Linked DNA regions of Homo sapiens: regions 2 and 3 are each linked to region 1. Evidence: fine-mapped expression QTL. A gene starts in region 1. Each other region holds a variant in brackets. All regions are shown on one strand. Distances are between the middles of the regions. Region 1 holds the start of PRMT5-DT (PRMT5 divergent transcript). Region 2 holds the start of HAUS4 (HAUS augmin like complex subunit 4). Region 3 overlaps RBM23 (RNA binding motif protein 23).

The links. PIP is the estimated chance that this variant, and not a neighbour inherited with it, causes the effect.
Region 2: its variant is fine-mapped to the expression of PRMT5-DT in lung (GTEx, PIP 0.99).
Region 3: its variant is fine-mapped to the expression of PRMT5-DT in whole blood (TOPMed, PIP above 0.99).

The regions. Positions count from the first base shown.
Region 1 is chr14:22,925,339-22,933,514 of GRCh38, reverse strand. PRMT5-DT (PRMT5 divergent transcript) reads right to left here and starts at 3,906. Exons shown (of 3, transcript NR_110002.1): 1 at 3,763-3,906. It overlaps PRMT5 (protein arginine methyltransferase 5), which reads left to right and starts at 4,139. Exons shown (of 17, transcript NM_006109.5): 1 at 4,139-4,263; 2 at 4,900-5,018; 3 at 5,304-5,389; 4 at 5,855-5,989; 5 at 6,701-6,813; 6 at 6,960-7,009; 7 at 7,219-7,382. The coding sequence starts at 4,154. It overlaps TRR-ACG1-3 (tRNA-Arg (anticodon ACG) 1-3), which reads right to left and starts at 3,814; the gene lies at 3,742-3,814. It overlaps LOC124903285 (a long non-coding RNA gene), which reads right to left. Exons shown (of 2, transcript XR_007064073.1): 2 at 6,613-7,054. RefSeq lists a silencer at 3,686-3,775 and enhancers at 4,186-4,295, 6,354-7,553.
Region 2 is chr14:22,949,284-22,957,459 of GRCh38, reverse strand. HAUS4 (HAUS augmin like complex subunit 4) reads left to right here and starts at 370. Exons shown (of 10, transcript NM_001166269.2): 1 at 370-544; 2 at 2,284-2,360; 3 at 4,777-4,919; 4 at 5,001-5,132; 5 at 5,771-5,905; 6 at 7,050-7,146. The coding sequence starts at 2,306. It overlaps PRMT5-DT (PRMT5 divergent transcript), which reads right to left. Exons shown (of 3, transcript NR_110002.1): 3 at 2,768-3,129. It overlaps MIR4707 (microRNA 4707), which reads left to right and starts at 431; the gene lies at 431-510. RefSeq lists enhancers at 1-166, 549-678. The variant A/T (reference allele first, on the strand shown) is at 3,899.
Region 3 is chr14:22,888,619-22,896,794 of GRCh38, reverse strand. RBM23 (RNA binding motif protein 23) reads left to right here. Exons shown (of 14, transcript NM_001077351.2): 14 at 1-3,591. Among named protein-coding and RNA genes, the nearest start is that of REM2, 9.5 kb to the right of the region's middle. The variant G/A (reference allele first, on the strand shown) is at 4,910.

The sequences.
Region 1 (8,176 bases):
AAAACTCAGCATGCAGAGCAGAGCAAAGCAGAACATAATGTAGACTTCACCAACTTTGACTTAACGCCTAGGGACAGGACCTGTTCAAGGCGCTCTATTTCTCTTCATTCCTTCCCTTCTTGCTCCTCTACAACTCATGTAGACAGACCCACGGTTACATGCTGTGTTTTATGGCACAGGAAAGTGCTATAGAAAAGGCTGAGAGCAACGTGGTATGGAGTTACTGAGAACTGTTCAGCATGATGCTAGCCACAATGCCGAGGCCATTTGGAATGAAAAGACAAAGACAGCACAGACCAAAGAAATTCAGCCCATGTAAACTTACTTTAGGGTCAGTCAGAAATTCTAGGTTCTTTTTACATGAATCCTTTAGAAAATTACTTTAACTGATGGCAAAACTGACATTATTGTTTTATAGATTGTCCTCTCTCCCTGTCACCCATGATGGGTTAGTTAACAACCAACAGAGCAGCTACCTGCTTGACATCAGGAGTGAGATGCCAGGAGCACAGATGGTCCACAATCTAGACAATTAGCTTCTAAAGAAGAAAAAACATCTAACAAGTCTTCTGTGAATGTAGAGTTTGGCTGGGCACAACTAGGGCAGAGAACAAGCAGACCTCCTCAACAACTCTTTCTTTTACCTCTTAAAATGCCAGTGAAAGTGGGGCGTCATGACTCACACCTGTAATCCCAGCACTTTGGGAGGCCGAGGTGGGTGAATCACCTGAGGTCAGGAGTTTGAAACCAGCCTGGCCAACATGGTGAAACCCCGTCTCTACTAAAAATACAAAAATTAGCCAGGCATGGTGGTGCACACCTGTGGTCCCAGCTACTTGGGAGGCTGAGGCAGGAGAATTGCTTGAACCCGGGAGGTGGAGGTTGCAGTGAGCTGAGATCATGCCACTGCACGCCAGCCTGGGCGACAGAGCAAGACTCTGTCTCAAAATAAAATGAAAAATGAAATAAAATATAAATAAATAAAATGCTGGTGGAGTACTCACCCACTTGCTGAGAACAACCATTTATTGGAAAGACCTGGAGGGAAGAATTCCAAATAAATTCTGTAGATACTCCAACTCTAAGGAGGGGGAGCATAGTGACTTCCTTCCAATGAATACAGTATGGAAAGTTGGGGCCGGGGAGAGGGTGGGAGAGAATCACTTAACAGTGGAAAAACTGGATAAACTACTTCTTTTCAGGTGATCAAGGTCAACATTAAGTCATAAATCATGTTCATAGTATGTACCCTTGATATGATGTGATTAAAATAGCACTTTTATTTTTTTGAGATGGAGTCTCGCTCTGTCACCCAGGCTTGGAGTGCAGTGGTGTGATCTCGGCTCACTGCAGCCTCTGCTTCCCAGTTTCAAGCAGTTCTCCTGCCTCAGCCTCCGAGTAGCTGGTATTACAGGCGCATGCCACCATTCCTGGCTAATTTTTGTATTTTTAGTAGAGACGGGGTTTCACCATGTTGGCCAGGCTGGTCTCGAATTCCTGACCTCAGGTGATCTGCCTGCCTCGGCCTCCTAAAGTGCTGGGATTACAGGCCTGAGCCACTGCCCCCGGCAAAAACAGCACTTTAACTCTGTGACCTTCCTTCCCAAAACACAGTCTAATCATGAGACAAACAGACAAATTCCAATAGAGGGGCATCCTACAATATACCTAACCAGTACTCCTCAAAACTACCAAAGTCATCAAAAACAAGGAACATCTGAGAAACTGTCATAGCCAAGAGGAGCCTAAGGAGACATAGCAACTAAATGTCATATGATATGCTGCATGGGATCCTGGAGCAGAAAAATAGTAACGATAATAGTGGACAAAAGCACCTCCAATCACTTCAGGCTTCATGGAGCTTTTTTTTTTTTTTTTTTTGAGATGGAGTCTCGCTCTCTCGCCCAGGCTGGAGTGCAGTGGCACGATCTCGGCTCACTGCAAGCTCTGCCTCCTGGGTCATTCTCCTGCCTCAGCCTCCTGAGTAGCTGGGACTACAGGCGCCTGCCACCACACCCGGCTAATTTTTTTTGTATTTTTTTTAGTAGAGACGGGGTTTCACTGTGTTAGCCAAGATGGTCTTGATCACCTGACCTCGTGATCCGCCTGCTTCGGCCTCCCAAAGTGCTGGGGTTTTTTTTTGTTTTTTTTTTTGAGACGGAGTCTTGCTGTTGCCCAGGCTGGAGTACAACGGCATGATCTAGGCTCACTGCAGCCTCCACCTCCCACCTCCTAGGTTCAAGTGATTCTCCTGCCTCAGCCTCCTGAGTAGCTGGTATTACAGGCGCACGCCACCACGTCTGGCTAAATTTTGTATTTTTAGTAGAGATGGGTTTCTCCGTGTTGGTCAGGGTAGTCTCGAACTCCCGACCTCAGGTGATCCGCCCGCCTCGCCCTCCCAAAGTGCTGGGATTACGGGCGTGAGCCACTGTGCCCAGCCTGGCCTTCATGGTGCATTTTTTAAATGCTTTGGTTTTTCCGACTTTCCTTTCCTCCTCCCCCTGCCCCGACATTATTTTGCTCTTGTTGCCCAGGCTGGAGTGCAGTGGCGTGATCTTGGCTCACTGCAACCTCCGCCTGCCGGGTTCAAGCAGTTCTCCTGCTTCAGCCTCCCGAGTAGCTGGCCGAGTAGCTGGGATTACAGGCGCCTGCTACCACGTTTAGGAGAGACGGGGAGTTTTCATGTTGGCCAGGCTGGTCTCGAACTCCTGACCTCAGGAGATCCACCCGCCTCCGCTTTCCAAAGTGCTGGGATTACAGGCGTGAGCCACCGCGCCCGGCCGGTTTTCCGGCTTTCATTCTTTTGGGGCACTTGCATTGCACCCAGGGTTCCCCAGAACTTATCCTACCCCACACCCTTTTCGTATTTCCTATGGCTCTGTCCCCAACGAGCTATGGTGATCTCAGTCGCATGGCCTCAGTTCTTTTCTTCTAGCGACCTCCATCCAACTTTCTATTACACAGCGCCCCCTAGACGTTCAATTCAGCATGACCAAACCCAAACCCTGATTTCCCAAACCCTCTTTCCGCATTTCTTGCTCACTGCATGGACAGAATCCTAGGCATCACCCCCTACTTTGCTTTCTCAGGACTCCTTGCCAGTCGGTCCCTAAGTTCTGCCAGCGGCGCCTGCGTGGGGTCTCTTGTACCGTGTTCTCCTCTCCATCCTTGCTGCCGAGCCCTCAACACCAGTGGGCCCCCTGCCTTCTGGAGTTCCCATTTACCTCCCTATGTCTTTCCTTGCTTCCTTCCTTTCCATCTCTAGCAGCTAATGACATGAGAAAATGTAGATTCTCTCTGGCCTCCATGCCAGCCAATTTCATGACTGCTGCCCACTGTAATTAATGAATTCCTTTTCTCTATCTTGAGGTGTGTGTGTGTGTTTAGGCGTTTATTTACACCTTTTGTGTTTGAAACACAAAACACTACTTCCTAGAATCACTAGGAAGTAGTAGCTGAGTTAGCAGTTTATTTTAATATGTAACATAGTAAGGTGACAAAGCTCATTTTAATAGCACCAGCCATTAACCCAGTTTTCTCAGTGTTCATATGGACGTAAATAATGACACAAGAAAAACACTTTTGAGGGTAGTTACGGGAAAAGCTGACATTACATGGCTGCATAACCCAACCGACTCAGGATCTGATAATGAAAGCGTGAAGATAATAAAGAAGCATCAAGCTGCGAAAGGAAAGGAAAATTACAAAATGCTCACGCAGCGAAGCTGCGAGGAACCCCACCGAGCCAGCCAGGAGTCGAACCTGGAATCTTCTGATCCGTAGTCAGACGCGTTATCCATTGCGCCACTGGCCCTGAGATGGCACTGTTTCTCTCCGTGATGGTACTTCAAGGTTATACTGCAGGGTTTCATGGGCGGTGTAGTCTCTCAACGGCGTTCTTCAGATAGACTAAGCATTCTGGGAGATTGAAGTTCGTCAGGAACCAGACCCTGAGATTGGTGGATCCATGCCGTACGCCACTGTGCAGCCCGCGGATTGGCAGGAAAAGCCACTCCCCATCCCTCCTGTTCGGGAGCTGTGGCAGACGCTCTGGTTGTTAAGGCGACTCGTCCCGCCTTCTGGGGCACTAGTTTGACTTTGTGATTGGCTACTAGTATCAAGGAATCCCGGCGTGGACAGCGCGAGGAGAAAGATGGCGGCGATGGCGGTCGGGGGTGCTGGTGGGAGCCGCGTGTCCAGCGGGAGGGACCTGAATTGCGTCCCCGAAATAGCTGACACACTAGGGGCTGTGGCCAAGCAGGGGTGAGGGCCGGACCTCCACGAGCGGAATGCGGGGTCCGAACTCGGGGACGGAGAAGGGCAGACTAGTCATCCCGGAGAAGCAGGGGTGAGGGGGTCGGCTAGGATGAGGAGGGGAGAGACTATTACTCTTTGGAGGGGAGGAGCCTCGGACCCAGTAACGTGAGGAAAATAACTTGTGGGAGGCCTGTGGTCACTGAGTCCCAAAGTTGGGAGAGTTGTTGGGTAAACTCTAAAGGGCCCTGGAGGTCGCGATTATTGTCTGGGAGTGGGAGGAGGTGTTAGGGGGCAAGGGAGAGAAGAGGCTAATTTTGACGGGGGAGGCATGGGCAGAACTGGGGCAAATCTGGATGTGATGGTCTTGGAAACATACTGACACCTGAGGAGAAAAAAATTCTACTTGTGGATATCCATCATTTTCTCCTTACTCATATGTCCCATGGCTGTGTTTTAGGGAGAAATTGAGGCACAGTACAGCAGAGTTGATATCCCCCAAGGTGGTCTGAACTCAGCAGCCTAGTAGGCTGAACTGATGGCAGCTGAAAGGGCTGTGCAAAATCAAGATAGCCTAAATCCAGTTGCTTGGCTCTCTGGCACTGCTGCTGTCTTTACATGATTCTGGGTCTGTCGCGGTTGTAGGTTTGATTTCCTCTGCATGCCTGTCTTCCATCCGCGTTTCAAGAGGGAGTTCATTCAGGAACCTGCTAAGAATCGGCCCGGTCCCCAGACACGATCAGACCTACTGCTGTCAGGAAGGGGTAGGGACCATCCCATATGCCCCTTAATTATTAGAGGCAATAACAACTTCTGCTTTATCGGGGCCCTCATTCTCCTCCTTTTCTGACTTGGATATATTTGTTAGTCCCTGGGATATAGATAACTTGTTTTCTCCTTGCTTCTCTATTCTGCATCAGGCTATCCCATGTCTATGTAGAAAAAACCTTTGTCTCTCATTTCTACTCTTGATTCCCAAAACTAAAAATTGAACAAGTAAAGTGCTGAACCTTATTCAGTATTTGTCTTTCTTGGGTGGGGGAGTGCAGACTGGAATACGCTAATTGTGGGAAAGCTTTCTCCATGGATTCGTCCAGACTCAAAAGTGGAGAAGATTCGCAGGAACTCCGAGGCGGTAAGACTGTTTGACTTCTCTGCTGGATTTTTCTAACCAAGCTGGGTGGGGAGAGTGGTCCCCTCCCATCCCCAATAACTTGGTAAATTAACTGATAGAATGAAATTAAAGCTATTAGGCTGGGTGCTGTGGTGCACACCTATAATCCTAGCACTTTGGGAGGCTGAGGCTGTAGGATCACTGGAGCTCGGGATTTCGAGACCAGCCTGGGCAGCGTAGTGAAACCCCATCTCTATAAAATATACAAAAATTAGCCAGGCATGGTGGTGCATGCCTGTGGTCCCAGCTACTCAGGAGGCTGAGGAGGGAGGATCAGTTGAGCTTGGGAAGGTCAAGGCTGCAGTGAGTGGAGACTGTGCCACTGCACTCCAGCCTGGGTGACAGAGTGAGACTTTGTCTCAAAAAAAAAAAAAAAAAAGCTGTTTGCTTGTTAGCTCAAACTTTTCCTCTTCATCTCCGTTCCAGGCCATGTTACAGGAGCTGAATTTTGGTGCATATTTGGGTCTTCCAGCTTTCCTGCTGCCCCTTAATCAGGAAGATAACACCAACCTGGCCAGAGTTTTGACCAACCACATCCACACTGGCCATCACTCTTCCATGGTATAGCTGAGGGGCTCCTTTCCTGCTGCATATCATAGTAGTCAGATTGTGCTAAGTACCTTCTTGTGCCTAGCCATTCAGTGAAGGGTGTGTTTGGCAGAATTGAAGTATCAGTATTGGCGGGCACAGTGGGTGATGCCTGTAATCCCAGCACTTTGGGAGGCTGAGGTGGGCAGATCACTGAGCTCAGGAGTTCGAGACCAGCTTGGGCAGCGTGGTGAAATCCTGTCTGTATAAAAAACCAAAACCAAAACAAAAACAAAAAAACACAAATTAGCTAGGTGGGGTGTCACACGCCTGTAGTCCCAGCTACTTGGGAAGCTGAGGTGGGAGGATGACTTGAACCTGTGAGGCGGAGGTTGCAGTTAGCTGAGATTGCACCACTGCACTCCAGCCTGGGTGACAGAGCCAGACCTTGTCTCAAAAAAAAAAAAAAAAAAAGGTCAGTATTGCGCACCTCTCCATCTAAAAGTGGTATGAAGAGAGTTTCAAAACATGTAAATGTAATTATTTTGGAAACTTACGTAAGACAAGGCAGATATTTACATAAGGATCTATATATAAGGTACATGTTCACTTACAAAATTACAAATTGGGAAAAGCATATAAAGGGATTAACGAGGTCTGGATGAAGTTTTTTTTATTGAGGGAAACTTTCTGGACCCAATGAGTTCAAAAGAGAGTTCTAAAAGGGTGACTGTTCATGTGCAGTTCTGGATGCGGGTACCCTTGGTGGCACCAGAGGACCTGAGAGATGATATAATTGAGAATGCACCAACTACACACACAGAGGAGTACAGTGGGGAGGAGAAAACGTGGATGTGGTATGTCTCCCTTTGCTGCTGTACCAGGGTGCAAGGGATAGGGTGAGGGGAAGTACAGGGTGCAACCTGTAGGGAGGTCTCCTTGAGCTGTGGTGATTGGTCGGCCATATCTAGTTTACTGTACTTTTCTGTATTTGACTGAACAGGTGGCACAACTTCCGGACTTTGTGTGACTATAGTAAGAGGATTGCAGTGGGTGAGTCCATGAGAATCCTGGGATGGGTGTGGCTTCTCTTACCTCCTGTGAATAAGAATCAGGAATTTCATATATAGTATACAATTTTGCTACTTCCCCTCTGTCTCAGACTGGCTTTCTCTTAAAGAAGTAAACAGATTTTGCGCAAAGGAGCAAGGAAGGGTTTCTTGCCTGGCAGTGGTTGACAGTTTTTCTTTTGCCTCATGTAGCTCTTGAAATTGGGGCTGACCTCCCATCTAATCATGTCATTGATCGCTGGCTTGGGGAGCCCATCAAAGCAGCCATTCTCCCCACTAGCATTTTCCTGACCAATAAGAAGGGATTTCCTGTTCTTTCTAAGATGCACCAGAGGCTCATCTTCCGGCTCCTCAAGGTGAGTGGTAGGAGGGTTCTAAAGGTAGTCCAGCTATACATCTTGCCTTATTTACCTGTGTATGATCGTTTTTTCCTGTGAGGCTGACTCTTTTTCTTTGGTTTCTGGGGAGCAATTTCAGTGAAGTTGGGAATCTTGAGAACAAAAAGGTAAATGCCAGTAGTAGCCCTAGAAACCTTTCAAAACAAACCAAACCTCATGAGAACTTTGCAGAAGGTTTCATTTAGGAAGTTACAGCAAGGATCCATGAGGCTGTTTGGGTGTTGATACTTTCATGGCATAAGAGGGCTTTTTCTTTTTTCTTTTTTTTTTTGAGACAGGGTCTCACTCTGTTACCCAGACTGGAGTGCAGCCATACCATCTCAGCTCACCAGAACCTCTGCCTCCCAGGCTTAAGCGATTCTTCTGCTTTAGCCTCCTGAGTAGCTGGGATTATAGGAATGCACCACTACTGCCCGGCTAATTTTTGTATTTTCAGTAGAGACAGGTTTTATCATGTTGGCCAGGCTGGTCTTGAACGCCTGACCTCAAATGATCCACCCGCCTCGGCCTTCCAAAGTATTGGGATTACAGGCGTGGGCCACCACGCCCGGCCAAGGGGGCTTTTTATAAGTTTACTGAAGCCTCATGCTGCCTTTGTTGGTATTGGGACAGACGCTAGAGAACTGTTGGTCTGGGCCAGGTGCAGTGGCTCGCGCCTGTAATCCCAGGACTTTGGGAGGCTGAGGCGGATGGATCATCTGAGGTCAGGAGTTTGAGACCAGCCTGTCCAACATGGTGAAACCCCGTCTCTA
Region 2 (8,176 bases), 24 kb before region 1:
CTGCACCCCAGCCTGGGCGACAGAGCGAGACTCCGTCTCAAAAAAAAAACGAGGCAAGGCAAGCAAAATGCTTGGCGTAGTGCCTGACTCATCGTAGGCCCTCAATAAATGTTAGCAATTACCACCATTTTCTCAGCATCTGCCCTTCACTGGGGAGGCACTAATGAGAAGGGGCAAAAAAGCCTTTCCGAGACCATCCTGTTTCCCAGTCCGGGTTCCACCACCCGAGCATGCGAACCCAGGGCGTTGGGAACCCAGCGCGCACCCGTCGAGGGGCGGGGCCTGCCGTTCCCGCCTCGAGTGTGGCCCCGCCTCCACCTCCTTCGTCGCGGCCTCTAGTGCACTTTCGGCTCCTTCCCCTTCCCGGGCCTTTCAGCTTGGTCTTTCCGGGCCTCGCTTCCCCCAGCCCCTGCGCCCGGCCCGAACGAGAGGTTCCGGAGCCCCGGCGCGGGCGGGTTCTGGGGTGTAGACGCTGCTGGCCAGCCCGCCCCAGCCGAGGTTCTCGGCACCGCCTTGAGAGCTTCAGCTGCCCCAGGGTGTGCAGGTTTGCTTTAGAGGGTCGGCGGGCGGAGCTTCGGGGAAGAGGAGCTCTGGGAGAGTCATTCCGGCCAGTGGCCGGAGACCGTCGTCGCTCTTGGGAATCCTTGGCCGCCCAGACAGAAGGGAAGTAGGCGCCGGAGAGCCCGTTCTGCATTTTGATTCATCTCGGGCCCTGTAAGGGTCATATCTTGTGAAAATAACCTGTAAAATCAATTTAACGTTCAGTGCAGCGTGTAAAGACAGCTCTAAGAATTTAAAAGACGCCTGAGTCAGAACATTTAAATGCTTGGGTCCCTGTAGCAGCGTTTTAACACGTCTGAGTGCAGAGGGTGGAGAATCGAGCCTGATTGCCGTTCACGCCCTGTAACCTTTAAGAAGGGTAAAGAAAGGCACCCTAAAAAACGCAAGGGGACACTTACCCTAGGGGGGGACGAACAGCTAGCTTTTTGGAATTTGGGTTGGTCTTCATTTCCAAGTGCGAAATTTGCCTGCAAAACTTTTTATTTGCAGTCATAGATCAACGATAAACAGAATTGTTAAAACACTGAACTTAACTAAGTAGTGGCTTTTGTTGACAAGTCGATTGTGTTATTAATTCTTAATGTCTCATCCAAGGCAGGAATCGTTATCTCAGTTTTGCAGGTGGGAAAAGTTTGGCACAGAAAAAAGCATTTTCCTTAAGTTCTCAGAAGCAACGGCCGGCCGAGCTGCAAATTAAGTCCCAGCATTCTGCCTCCTCAGCTGCGTCCCCCTCTAGACCATGTTAGAAAACAAATGAGTAGTTACTTTGATGTTACTCATAAAACGATCGAGTAAACCAAATGTTCTATAAACATGAAGCGTTAAATCATAATAACCTTCAATGCCTGTTCAGCTTTGGGAGGCTCAGTTGCCCTTTGGAGTTTGATACCTTGCAGAGAGGAGGGGCAGAGCAAAAACATGAAAAGTAATGTCAAGGGAAAATTTTTGTCTCCTGAGGTCAAACTGTGCCCATCTTTACTGCCCCTGTGTTGGTGTCATTCCTTTCAGCGCACTCCATGTTCTGGCAAAACACCCACAGCTCACGTTCTCGTTGTAGCCACATTACACCTTTGCATTACTCTTTTGCCACTGACCTCACTGTCAGTCTTCTTGTCACGCTGTTTCCTCCAGGTGCTCTTTTCTTAGGCTGTTATGTGAAAACCAGTTGTTCAAGTGTGGAATGATTTGTCATTCCTGAAGGATGATTCTAGAGTTAATGATAAAAAAAAAAAAAACTACCAACAGATCTTAGACAAAAAAAGAAGCACAAAAAAACTATTATGGAATTTGATAGCTGAGTTATTTGGGGGGAAAAAGTAGACTTTGATTTTTTTCCCTTTTCCCCCAGTTCACTCATAACTGGGAAGCTGCAGCTCAGTTTTAACTTTGGCATAATGGTGGTGGTGGTGGAGAATCCTCTTGTTTAGACTCAGTGAATTGGAAAGTTCTCTTTTTAGGATGCTCCTTTTGGACAGCTTGGAGCAAGTGGAAACACATGTGTGCTTAGAATGTGACATGTTTTGGCACTTGTAAATCTGTTTGTCCATAAAGCTTGTGTAAGAGCTTGGGACCCAGGATGTGTGGTATAGGCCCTCTGTAAAAGTCATCCTTGAGGTTCCTTTCCAGCTTGTGGACAGCAGAAATTTGAACATAAGGTAGTGTCCTTGGAGCAGCCAGCTGTTTATTCATCTTTTTGTTTTCTTTCACTTCTTGGTTCCACAGATTAGAATCCCAAGAAAATCAAATGGCATCCGGGGATTTCTGCTCACCTGGAGAAGGGATGGAAATACTTCAACAAGGTAAGAGTAGCCACTTGCAAAAGGTTTGATGATTTATCCAGAGAGGTCTTATCCAGGTTCTTGCCTTTTCTAGTAAAAAGCATTTATTGGCTCACACCTGTAATCCCAGCACTTTGGGAGGCTGAGGTGGGTGGATCACGAGGTCAGGAGATCGAGACCATCCTGGCTAACACGGTGAAACCCTGTCTCTACTAAAAATACGAAAAATTAGCTGGGCGTGGTGGTGGGTACCTGTAGTCCCAGCTACTCCAGAGGCTGAGGCAGGAGAATGGTGTGAACCTGGGAGGCGGAGCTTGCAGTGAGCTGAGATCGTGCCACTGTACTCCAGCCTGGGCAACAGAGCAAGACTCCAAAAAAAAAAAAAAAAAAGGATTTATAAGTTTCCCCAGTATGGTTTTCCTCACAGAAGCATGTGTTTCTGAGGAAACTGGAATACATGAAGATCCTTGAACACTCTCTTATTGGAAAACAGACTACACTAATTCCTGTTAATGTTGGTTCAATATCTGCTTGTGTAGTAGGCTAAAAACTCAAGATGCTCCCATGCTGATGTTAGCAAGCATATTATAAAAATAAGGGTAGCCAGCAAATTCCTTGAAGGTGTCCTTCCTACCTGTGTCTTAAATATTCTCATATCTTAGTCTCCAAAATTTCAGATCCTTCTATATCCTGAGTTCTTTCCATATCTCAGATCCTTTCTATATCTTGAATCCTTCAAGAGCTTGCATTTTCTATATCTTGACTATTTCCATATTGGATGCTTCAGTACCTTAGGGAAAAAGAGAGATTTCTTATTTCCCAAAAAGACTTTGGGTATAATGTTCCAAAGAATGAAAATTTGGGTGTTTTGGCAAGTAGAGGTAAAAGACCCCAACAGAGAGCATATGGAAAAAGAAATGGAAAGAAAGCTCCTTGAGCATATGGAAAAACCAGAGGATCTCAATTTCTTACACTTTTTTCTCATGCCTGTGCTGTTTTGTATCTACATGGGTTACTCAACTCTACTGACAATTATAAGTATTTGGGCCAGCTGGCCAGGTGTGGTGGCTCATGCCTGTAATCCCAGCACTTTGGGAGGCCAAGGCGGGCGGATCACCTGAGGTTGGGAGTTTGAGACCAGCCTGACCAACATGGAGAAACCCCGTCCCTACTAAAAATACAAAAATTAGAGGCTGGGCACGGTGGCTCACACCTGTAATCCTAGCACTTTGGGAAGCCGAGGCGGGCAGATCACGAGGTCAGGAGATTGAGACCATCCTGGCTAACAAGGTGAAACCCCGCCTCTACTAAAAATACAAAAAAAAAAAAAAAAATAGCTGGGCGTGGTGGCGGGTGCCTGTAGTCCCAGCTACTTGGGAGGCTAAGGCAGGAGAATGGCGTGAATCTGGGAGGTGGAGCTTGCAGTGAGCCGAGATCGTGCCATTGCACTCCAGCCTGGGTGACAGAGTGAGACTCCGTCTCAAAAAAAAAACAAAAAACAAAAAATATTAGCCAGGCATGGTGGCGCATGCCTGTAATCCCAGCTACTCGGGAGGCTG[A/T]GGCAGGAGAATCGTTTGAACCCGGGAGGTGGAAATTGCAGTGAGCCGAGATCACGCCATTGCACTCCAGCCTGGGCAACAAGAGCAAAACTCCATCTCAAAAGAAAAAAATAAAAAAGAATTTGGGCCAGCTGTGGTGACTCACACCTGTAATCCCAGCACTTTGAGATGCCAAGGTGGGAGGATCACTTGAGCCCAAGAGTTCAAGACCAGCCTGGGCAATGTAGTGAGACCCTGTCTGTAAAAAAAAAATTAGCCAGTCATCGTGGTTTGCCTTGTAGTCTCAGCTCCTCAGGAGGTGGAAGGATCGCTTGATCTGGGGAGGTTAAGGCTGCAGTGAGCTGTGATTGTGCCACTGCACTCCAGCCTGGGTGACAGAGTGAGACCCTGTCTCAAAAAGAAAAAAAAAAAATTGGTTAGTTGAACGTTTAACTTACTCTAAGTGTATTCTGTTAGTCTTGTTTATGCGACTACATATCACATCCAAAGTTGGAACTTCACGTGTTGTGTTTCTTTCCCCCTACTTCAAGAACTCTATTAATTTTGGATGAATGAGGCATTTTGTGTATTGTGATTCCTACTAACGGTCCCTTAATTTTTATTCTATTTGTCTAATATGTACCAACTGCATTTCCGTTTCCTAAGATCTTAGTTTATTACTTATTCCCCCTTAATATCCTTGTATATAATATAAATGCTTGTTACCTTGAATATTACCCTTGTTTATTTGTGGATTTTTAAAAAATCTCATTAGATTTAGCAATCTTTCCTATAAAAATCCTAGGGGTTTTTTGGAAGTATTAAGTTATGCTCAGTTATGTAAAGTAAGAGTCCACACCTTTTTTGTTTTTTTGTACCTGTGGGGACATGATGTTAAGTGTGCAGCAAACAACTTCCTCCTTGTAACCTGAGTAAAGAGGACCTGTTACAGAACCCATACTTCAGCAAGCTTCTCCTGAATCTCTCACAGCATGTGGATGAGAGTGGCTTAAGCCTCACCCTAGCAAAGGAGCAGGCTCAGGTAAGGGCTTTGGGAGAAGAGATAAGAAGAAGGGAAAATCCTGAGAGAGAGGTTCCTACCTGAGATTTTTTGGATTTCTAGGCATGGAAGGAAGTTCGACTGCATAAGACAACATGGTTGAGGTCTGAGATTTTACACAGAGTCATTCAAGAGTTGCTTGTGGACTACTATGTGAAGATACAAGACACAAATGTAACTTCTGAGGACAAAAAGGTGAGGCAAAGGCTGGGCGTGGTGGCTAACACCTGTAATCCCAGCACTTTGGGAGCCCCAGGCAGGCTGATCACTTGAGGTCAAGAGTTTGAGACCAGCCTGGCCAACATGGTAAGACCCCGTCTCTACTAAAAATACAAAAATTAACCAGGTGCAGTGGCACACGCCTGTAATCCCAGCTACTCGGGAGGCTGAGGCAGCAGAATCGCTTGAACCTGGGAGGCGGAGATTGCAGTGAGCCGAGATTGCGCCACAGCACTCCAGCCTGGGTGACAGAGCGAAACTCAGTCTCAAAAAAAAGTGAGGTGAAAGAAATGAGGTGGGGTTGGTTACCAGTTACAGGAATGACCAGGCCAACTGTGGCTTTGTCTGATGATGTGATCTAGGGGAAGTAGGAGCTTTGAGAAATGGTTTGTCAAAAGAGAAATGGACTGTAGTTATGGGGAAGGAGTGGATGTGTTATCAGAGTTTGTAATAGAAACATTGACAGAAGTCACTCGCAGCTGAGTTATCTGAGGGGGGATGATATATTTGAGGACTTTGAAAATATGTGAAAAACTGGTTCATAAGGATGGAAGAGGTGGAGTGGGAGAAGTTTTATAGTTGCCTCTTTTTGTTTTTTATTCTCTCTCTCTCAGTTTCATGAGACCCTTGAACAGCGGCTGCTTGTAACTGAACTGATGCGGCTCTTAGGTCCTAGCCAGGAGAGGGAGATACCTCCACTGCTGGGGCTGGAGAAAGCGGACCTTCTGGAACTCATGCCACTCTCAGAGGTTGGCGGGGAGATATTGGAACCAAATAAATGAAATGGTTTAATTTCTCCCATATCTTTAAAATGTTTTTTTTGTCAAGCTTTATTGTTTTTGTAAAAATGATACACATTCAGGGTGGTCAGACTCAAATAAGAAAAACGTTACACAGGAGCAAGTAAAAGCTGAAATACTGCATCTAGAAGCACAATATTATTATAAACAGCTTGACATAAATGGTATTATACCCTTCATGCTTATATAGAGAGTATAAGGCCGAGTGTAGTGACTTCCGCCTATAATCGTAGCACTTTGGGAGGCTGAGGTGGGAGGATCACTTGAGTTCAGGAGTTCAAGACCAGCCTGGGCAACATAGTGAGACCTCGTCTCTACCAAAAAAAAAACAAAACAAAAGCCAGGTTTGGTGGTGCACACCTGTAGTCCCAGCTACTCGGGAGACAGAGGCAGGAGGATGACTTGAGGGTGGGAGGTCAAGGCTGTAGTGAGCTGTGATCATGCCACTGTACTCCAGCCTGGGCACAGAGTGAGACCCTGTCTCAAAAAAAGAAAAGTACAGTCTATTTTCATGTAATATATTTTGGATTTCTTTTCAAGTCAATACATAAATGTAAATAAGATGATAGCTTCTATAGCACTGTTAGCAAAGTATCTAGGCACATAGTGCTTAGTGTTATGTCATCAGTTTAAATCTCTGCTAGGATTCTATTATATGGATGTAGAATAATTTGCTTAACCTTATTGGTGGATATTAAGGTTGTTTCCACATTTTTGCTGTTAGAAACCACAGGGAGATGAACATGCTGGTTCATATGTGTCTTTACCTTTGTATGATTATTTCTGTAATGCTGGTGCTAAAAGTGGGATTCCTGAGTCAGTGCATACTCATACAGAATATTGGTACCTAATGCCAAACTGCTATCCAGAAAGGTATTTTCAGGGCTCCTGGATCCCCCATGTTCTCACCAACATGGGGTCTTGACAGTCATTTTATTCTTCGCTAATTTGATAGGTGAAAAATGAGTCTCTCTGATGTCTCTTGATGCATTTTCTTTGGCTATTATTGAGGTTATCATCATGTATTCATTGGCTGAGACGTCCTAGTTTTTACAGTCTATTCGCATTTCTGCCTTTACTTCTATGACTGTAGGATTTTGTGTGGATGAGGGCTCGGCTACAGCAAGAAGTAGAGGAGCAGCTCAAAAAGAAATGTTTCACTCTGCTCTGCTACTATGATCCCAATTCAGGTGAGTGCTAGCTGTCTGTTCTGCTCACAGCTGGACTTCAGGGTTCCTGGTCTGCTCTTTTGAGAATAATATATTTTGATTTTAGATTTGGGACAGAGGTTTAGAACCATCAGAGATGCTTATTTGTTTTGTTGCTGGTAGAATAAAAACAAGGACTTTTTGTTTTTTTGTTTTTTTTTTTTTTTGAGATGGCGTTTTGCTCCTGTTGCCCAGGCTAGAGTGCAATGGCGCCATTTCTGTTCACCGCAAGCTCCTCCTCCTAGATTCAAGTGATTCTCCTGCCTCAGCCTCCCGAGTAGCTGGGATTACAGGCATGCGCCACCCCGCTCGGCTAATTTTGTATTTTTAGTAGAGATGGGGTTTCTCCATGTTGATTAGGCTGGTCTGGAACTCCCAACCTCAGGTGATCCGCCTGCCTCGGCATCCCAAAGTGCTGGGATTACAGGTGTGAGCCACCACACCCGGCCAAAACAAGGACCTTTGTAAGGACTCTTTTTATTCAGCAAGATACTGAGTGGGAGTGTCCTCCTGCTGCAGGGAAGGATGAGTTCTCTCAGGAGGTTCAGAATGGTTTAGGGAGGAAAGTTCAGACTCATAGAACACCTTATACTCTCTGTATAAGCTTGGAGGGTATAATACCATTTATGTCAAGCTGTTTATAATAATGTGTTTCTAGACGTAGTATTCATATTTCAGCTTTTACTTGCTTCTGTGTAATGATTTTCTTATTTGAGTCTGACCACCCTGAATGAATGTGTATCTCTTTTTTTTTTTTTTTTTTTTTTGAGACGAAGTCTCGCTCTGTCCCCCAGGCTGGAGTGCAGTGGCGCAGTCTCACCTCACTGCAAACTCCACCTCCTAGGTTCACGCCATTCTCCTGCCTCAGCCTCCCGAGTAGCTGGGACTACAGGTGCCCGCCACCACGCCTGGCTAATTTTTTGTATTTTTAGTAGAGACGGGGTTTCACCGTGTTAGCCAGGATGGTCTCAGTCTCCTGACCTCATGATCTACCCACCTTGGCCTCCCAAAG
Region 3 (8,176 bases), 37 kb after region 1:
GCTCTGTGAAAGTGAGGTGAAGCAGACCAACCAACTTAGATCACGTGGGAAGGTGGGTGCAAGGAAAGAGCTGAGCAAAGATCACTTCAAAAAGTTGGATGAAGTCTATTAGTTGTTCAGATGATCTGCTCTCAAGAGCCCTTAAGGAGTTGGCTGGAGTTTCTGGAGAGCCATTAAGCAGTTATTTTTGAGAGCAATGGGTAGATGGATGAGGTGCCTGAAGACTGGAAAGCAGCCAGTCAGTGCCGGATTGTAGAAAGGAGAAACAATGACCTTGGAAATCGGAGACCCGTCAAACTTGCCAATGTTCCAGAAAGGATGGGAGTTTCAGTCAGCTTTCAGGCATCAGGAAGCCTACTTGCTTAGAATTAGTGGTGCTAAGAATTCGCCTCCTCAACTCCTGAGCATAAGCAAGCTAGGGGACCTCCACCCTGTAGCCGAGTGTCACACTCTGGAACCACACAGCATGGTTCAGATCCCTCTTCCCTCACAAACTAGCTGAATAAGCTTGGGTAGGTTACTTCACTTCTCTCACACTTCATCTGTAAAAAGGAAATGATAACACCTATCTCATAGGGATGTTGTGAGAATTCATTGAGAAAGGTTTGGAACTTGGCTCATTACTGTCCTCAGTATTTTCACTCCTCTGGATGCCTACTCACTTGATTTTCTAGCTGACTTCATTCTCCCCAACTTTAGAGCTCAAGGTTTATGGGGAAAAGCAAGGGCAGTGCAATGGTGAAAATAAATCTTCATTTTTAAATAAATAAATTGTTCCTGCACTGAAGCCCCAAGCTTACAAGGTCTTGGGTCACACACAACCTGCCTAGTTTTCAGGAAAACAGATCCCACTAGCCCAATCTCTTTATGCTTGAGGCTCTGTCCACATAGTTAGATTTTAACCAGATGGTTTCGAAAAATCAAAATGAGCCCCCCTCACAGGTACCTTCAAGGTACCTAACACCATTAGCTTTGTCTGGCAGGGGAAAAATACCAGGGCACTCAGTTTTGTTTTGTTTTGAGACAGGGTCTGGCTCTGTTGCCCATGCTGGAGTACAGTGGTGCCATCACAGCTCACTGCAGTCTCAACCTCCTGAGCTCAAATGATCCTCTTGATTAGCTGGAACTACAGGTATGTGCCACTATGCCCAGCTAAGTTTTGTATTTTTTGTAGAGATGGGGTCTTGCTATGTTGCCCAGGTGGTCTTGAACTCCTGGGCTTAAGTGATCCTCCCTCCTTAGCCTCCCAAAGTGCTAGGATTATAGGTGTGAGCCACCACAACTGCCTGAGAGCACCCTCTGTTACCACCCTTTCCTTAGCGTCTCAGCCTCCCCCAAGCACCTGTCTTTGTTGGTCTCCAGAGCCTAGCCCTACACTGGCATTTTCCTTTCTGAATAAGTATTTTTTTTATTTATTTATTTTTATTTTTTCTTTGAGATGGAGTTTCGCTTTTGTTGCCCAGGCTGGAGTGCAATGGTGCGATCTCGGCTCACCGCAACCTCTGCTTCCTGGGTTCAAGTGATTCTCCTGCCTCAGCCTCCTGAGTAGCTGGGATTACAGGCGTGCGCCACCACTCCCAGCTAATTTTGTATTTTTAGTGGAGACAGGGTTTCTCCATGTTGGTCAGGCTGGTCTCGAACTCCTGACCTCAGGTGATCCACCCGCCTTGGCCTCCCAAAGTGCTGGGATTACAGTCCTGAGCCACTGCACTGGGCCTTATTTATTTATTTTTAATTAATTAATTAATTTTTTTTGAGATGGAGTCTTGCTTTGTCGCCCAGGCTGGAGTGCAGTGGCGCAATCTCGGGTCACTGCAAGCTCTGCCTCCCAGGTTCATGCCATTCTCCTGCCTCAGCCTCCCAAGTAGCTGGGACTACAGGCACCTGCCACTATGCCCGGCTAATTTTTTGTATTTTTTAGTAGAGATGGGGTTTCACTGTTTTAGCCAGGATGGTTTCGATCTCCTGACCTAGTGATCCGCTCGCCTCGGCCTCCCAGAGTGCTGGGATTACAGGCGTGAGCCACTGCGCCCGGCTGGGCCTTATTTATGTATTTTTCTGAGACAGAGTCTCATGCTATCACCCAGGCTGGAGTGCAGTGGCATGATCTCTGCTCACTGCGATCTCTGCTCACTTCAACCTCTGCTTCCCGGGTTCAAGTGATTCTCCCACCTCAGCCTCCCGAGTAGCTGGAATTACAGGCACCCACCACCATGCCTGGCTAATTTTTGTAATTTTTTTTAGTAGAAATAGGGTTTCACCATGTTGGCCAGGCTGGTCTCTCTCTTGACCTCAAGTGATCCACCCACCTCGGCCTCCCAAAGTGCTGGGATTACAGGCGTGAGCCAATTGCCCGACCTGAGTAAGTATTTTAAATCAGCACAGGTCCTCTGCTTAAAGTCAAGTTGTAATTTGAACACAAAAATGGAAAATCATGCAGTAAAATACCATCGTGGAGCTTCAATTGCCAATCTGTCCCCCAACCTTCCATCAGATGACAAAACCCAAAAAAGTGTTACCCGTGAGTCCTATGGAAGGCACGTTGGACTTTGTAGACCATAACTTAAATTTTTATCTCCAAATGGTGCTGTGCTTTGAGAGTTTAGCAAGCTGCTTTGATGCCTAAATAAAGGGCCAGGACATAGGTTGCAAAAGGCATTACTACTTCCACCGCTTCTCTGTATAATGCTTGAGAAATTACAAAGATCTTTGCTCTTTTATTTAGTCCTCATGACTTCGCTATAAGGTAGGTATTCTTCATTTTAGAGTTGGGATAGCATAGCTGAGTTCAGCAAACCAGACAGGTTAAGAGTGACTTCATCCACAGACCCCCATCCAGGAAACATCCTGAGCACTAATTGAAAAGCATTCAAGGGCTTACTGAATTTGCATTCACATCTGGAGTTTTCAAGGCCACTAAGCTGTGGAAACTTGACATCAATATTCAAATAGATGAAAAGGGACCTTAAGCATATCCATCAGGGAGTCACCGAGATGATAAAGGCCTGAGAAGCAGTATGCTCTTGTCCGGCATTTGTGTCCTTTGACGACTGCACCATCCACCCAAATTTTGCTGCCTTCTTTATAGGAAGGGCCTTTTCCTCATGTGGTGGGCTGCCCACTGTTTCTTCTCTGTGCATTTGCTCATGTAGTTTGACCACAAGGAATGCTTTTCCTTCTTTCTCTCAACTATCTATAGCCTACATATCCTTTAAGGCCCAGTTTCTAAAATATGTCTTCCAAATTTACTGTTTCTTCCATTCAGAATTCCTGGAGCACATGAGGTAGCCCCCAGTTAGATAGAATGTGGTATTGTTTGCTGCTATTTTGCCTGTTTTGTGCTGTATCACCTCATCCATCTCCCCAGCTTAATTGCAAGCTATTTGACGGGCAGAAATTGTGTCTTATTTGTATTTGTTTTCCCCATTGGGCCCGGCACACTGATTGGCATATTGCAGATGTTTAGTACTTGAGAGAAACAAAATGTCTTCTAGCATTTGTGGATGAAAGATTAAAATGTCCAGGAAAATTTACTTAGATTGATGTGGATTGAAACTATATTAGATTAATAAAAAGATGTGTGTGTGTGAACTTCCTGGGAGTGAGGGTTTAACCCAGAGGACTTCCACGTATGACCCCGGCAGTCTTTCAGAAGAGAAGAGCCCCTGTTCCAGTCTCTCTAGAGGGCTCAGATGCAGCACGGCCTAAAAGCTCATCTGTAGGCAGAGGCCCAGAGTGGAAAAATTTCCAGATGCAGGACTCCCCCGTTCCTCTGACCCTCAGGGGAGAGCACACAAAGTCTATGCTCTGGGCCAATGAGGCGGTCTTGTGGGCAAAGGGGAGTGGGAGTAGCAGGGGCTGGGCAGGGGCTGGTAAGGGAACACGGACTCCAAGACAAAATTGCAGTGGTTAAGAGATGCATGAGGACAGAAAGGACCTTACCTGGCATGGCAGCTCAGGTCCCAGTGCCCTCTGCTGACCTCTCACCCCAGCCAAGATCAATGGCTCTACTTTGCCTTGAGAGAGAAAGAGAGAATGGCCTGGCTCTCAGAGAAGGCCTCACCTCTCCCAAGTCTGGCGGGAGCCTGGCTTCAGCTTCCGTCTGTTCTGAGCTATTCCCTGTAGGCGTCTGGAGGGAACACACAGATGGGTCGGGCTGATGGGACTGGCTGAGTTGGGGGAGGGAGGCTCATGGTGTGTGGCTCCCCTCGTGGGGGAGGTCTTGCCATCATGGTCTTCCATACACGAAAGACATGTTTTAAGCTTCTGCCACGTAAAAGGCACTGGGCCTTTCTTGTTCCTCATCCTCCTCTCTGGCCACATCTGACCATTGGTGATACTCTCCTAGAAACCCCTCCTCTGGCAGCAGTCACAACAGGCTCAATCCTAGTTCTCCCACTACCTCTTTGGCAGCTGCTTCTCCACCTTCTCCATCTATATATCCCCAGGATCTCCTTGTTCCCTCTTCTTTCTCTGGACCCCTAAGGCTTTGTTTTAAATTATTTTGTTTCTTTCTTTTTTTTTTTTTGAGACGGAGTCTCTCTCTGTCGCCAGGCTGGAGTGCAGTGGCATGATCTCAGCTCACTGCAACCTCTGCCACCCAGGTTCAAGCGATTCAGCCTCCCGAATAGCTGGGATTACAGGTGCCCACCCCTGCGCCTGATTAATTTTTGTAGTTTTTAGTAGAGATGGGGTTTCGCTATCTTGGCCAGGCTGGTCTTGAACTCCTGACCTCATGATCCACCGGCCTTGGCCTCCCAAAGTGCTGGGATTACAGGCGTGAACCACTGTGCCCGGCCTATTTCGTTTCATTTTTGAAGTGGTACTAAATGACACAGTTAAAAGTTCCAAAGGTAGGCCAGGCGCGGTGGCTCACGCCTGTAATCCCAGCACTTTGGGAGGCTGAGGT[G/A]GGTGGATCATGAGGTCAGGAGTTCAAGACTAGCCTGGCCAAGATGGTGAAACCCCCGTCTCTACTAAAAATACAAAAATTAGCTGGGCGTGGTGGTGGGCACCTGTAATCCCAGCTACTCGGGAGACTGAGGCAGGAGAATCGCTTGAACCCAGGAGGTGGAGTTTGCAGTGAGCTGAGATTGTGCCACACTGCACTCCAGCCTGGGCAACAGAGCAAGACTCTGTCTCAAAAAAAAAAAAAAAAATTTCCAAAGGTAGAAAAAGGGCATACAGGCTGGACGCGGTGGCTCAGGCCTGTAATCTCAGCACTTTGGGAGGCTGAGGCAGGCGGATCACCTGAGGTTGGGAGTTTGAGACCAGCCTGACCAACATGGAGAAACCCCATCTCTACCAAAAATACAAAAGTGGCCGGGTGTGGTGGCACATGCCTGTAATCCCAGCTACTCGGGAGGCTGAGGCAGGAGAATCGCTTGAACCCAGGAGGCGGAGGTTACAGTGAGATCGTGCCATTGCACTCCAGCCTGGGCAACAAGAGTGAAACTCCGTCTCAAAAAAGAAAAGAAAAGAAAAGAAAAAGGGCATACAATGAAAAGTCAGCTTCCCATCCTGGTCTTCTACTCACCCAGTTCCCCTTTCCAGAAGCAGCCAGTACCATCTTTTTTTTTTTTTTTTTTTTTTTTGACAGAATCTCACTCTGTTGCCCAGGCTGGAGTACAGTGGCACGATCTCGGCTCACTGCAACCTCCACCTCCTGGGTTCAAACAATTCTCCTGCCTCAGCCTCCCAAGTAGCTGGGATTACAGGCATGTGCCACCATGCCCAGCTAATTTTTGTATTTTTAGTAGAGATGGGGTTTCGTCATGTTGGCCAGGCTGGTCTCGAACTCCTGACCTCAGGTGATCTACCCGCCTCGGCCTCTCAAAGTGCTGGGATTACAGGCATGAGCCATCCTGTGCCTGGCCTGTAACAAACCCTTTTGTGAATCTGATGAAATTCATGAACCCTATTCTCAGACACAGGTATGACTACACAAATACATCAGATTGTATGTACCATTTCACAAGACGCAGACTCCATCAGTAGTCTGGGGTAAGGATCCCAGCCTGTACTGCACCTTCTCCCTTAGTATAATTGTGGATCCCCTTGCAAAATGAAAATACAGGGCTCCTTGTTCGAAGAATTTTAAGAACATAACAGCAGAACATTAAACTAAGCTTAGGGCCCTATGTGACTGCACAGGTCACCTTTTCTCCTTGCTCTTCTACTACTATCTTTATGGTAATTATTCTCAAATCTGTTTCTCTTGTCCCAACTTGTTCTGAATTTCAGATTCAGATTCAACTCTAGAGAGCTGCTGAAACTCTATATAGATGTTCTTCTAGCATCTCAAATTCAGTGTCTCCAAAATGGAGCTCCTTACTCTCACTACCTCCTCTGCCCCTTTACTCCAAGTTCTGCACCATCCTCTCACCACCTACAACTTTTTCCTCTCTTTATACTCATCCACTAAGTTGCCAAGTCCCATTGATTCTGATGCTCAAACCCATGCCTCCTTCCTTTCCCACTGCCACCCCCCTCAGGATGGCCTTTCATTATCCTCTGTATGTATCACTATTAACTGGTCCCTAAACTCAGCTCCTCAGTACTTGCCTCTGCAGCTCCAATCCATACACACCTCTCCCAGCCTCCTCTTCCCAAAAGACCATCCTAATCATGACTTCCACATTCAGATACCTGCAGTGACTCTCCCTGCCTACAGAGTTGGGCACAAACTCTTTTTCCTGGCATTTAAGGTCCTTTACAGTGGGACTCCAAACCTTCTTTTCCATGCTCATCTCTTACCCCTCCTCTTCATGTCCCTGAGGTTTCAACCCAACTGTACAGCCATCTGGTCCCTTAATGGGCCCAGTGTGTTTTCCTGTGTTTTAAAATTTGAGCTGCCTCTGTTCATGGTCTTCAGAATTTAGAACTTGCTTACTCCACTACAGCCATGTAATTTCTCTGGACCTTTCACCACAGCCACTGCACATGGCCCTGCCCATTGTGTCCCCGCATCTTGACTGCTGTCCCCTCTTTCTCTTCCTCCCATCCTTATTGGAAAGGGAGCCTCAGATGCAAAGCTGGATAAAATCATCATTAAGTATCAAGCAGAGCTGGGCGCGGTGGCTCACGCCTATAATCCCAGCACTTTGGAAGGCTGAGGTGGGTGGATCACCTGAAGTCAGCAGTTCAAGACCAGTCTGGTCAACATGGTGAAACTCCATCTCTACTAAAAATACAAAAAATTAGCTGGGCGTGGTGGTGGGTGCCTGTAATCCCAGCTACTCGGGAGGCTGAGGCAGAAGAATCACTTGAACCCGGGGGGTGGAGGTTGCAGTGAGTGGAGATCGCACCATTGCACTCCAGCCTGCGTGACAAGAGCAAGACTCCATCTCAAAAAAAAAAAAAAAGTATCAAGCAGACATGAAATCCCAACTCTACTGCTTACCGGGTAACCTCAGGCAAGTTACTTACACTCTGTTTCTTCTACTGTTAAACAGGTAGTAACACCTTATATAGGTTTTTTTTTTTTGCTTGTTTGTTTTTTGAGATGGAGTCTCACTCTGTCGCCCAGGCTGGAGTGCAGTGGCACGTTCTCAGCTCACTGCAACCTCTGCCTTCTGGGTTCAAGCTATTTTCCTGCCTCAGCCTCCCTAGTAGCTGGGATTACAGGCGCCTGCCACCACGCCCAGCTAATTTTTGCACTTTTTAGTAGAGATGGGGTTTCACCATATTGGCCAGCTTGGTCTCGAACTCCTGACCTTGTGATCCACCCACCTTGGCCTCCCAAAGTGCTGGGATTACAGGTGTGAGCCATGGCGCCCGGCCCTTTTTTTTTTTTTTTTAAAGAGACAAGTTCTCGTTCTATCACCCAGGCTGGAAGGCAGTGATTGCAGCTCACTTCAGCCTTGAACTCCTGGGCTCAAGTAATCCTCCCACTTCCTGAGTAGCTAGGACTACAGGTGCACTGCTTTTTTTTTTTTTTTTTTTTTTTTTTTTTTTGACAGGGTCTTGCTCTGTTGCCCGTGCTGCAGTGCAGTGGTACAATCACAGCTCACTGCAGCCTTAACTTCCTGGCTCAAGGGTTCCTCCCAGCTCAGCCTCTCAAGTAGCTGGGACTATCTGAATGACACCACACCCAGCTAATTTTTTGTAAAGACAGGGTTTTGCCATGTTGCCCAGGCTGGTTTCAAACTTCTGAACTGAAATGATCCTCCTGCCTCAG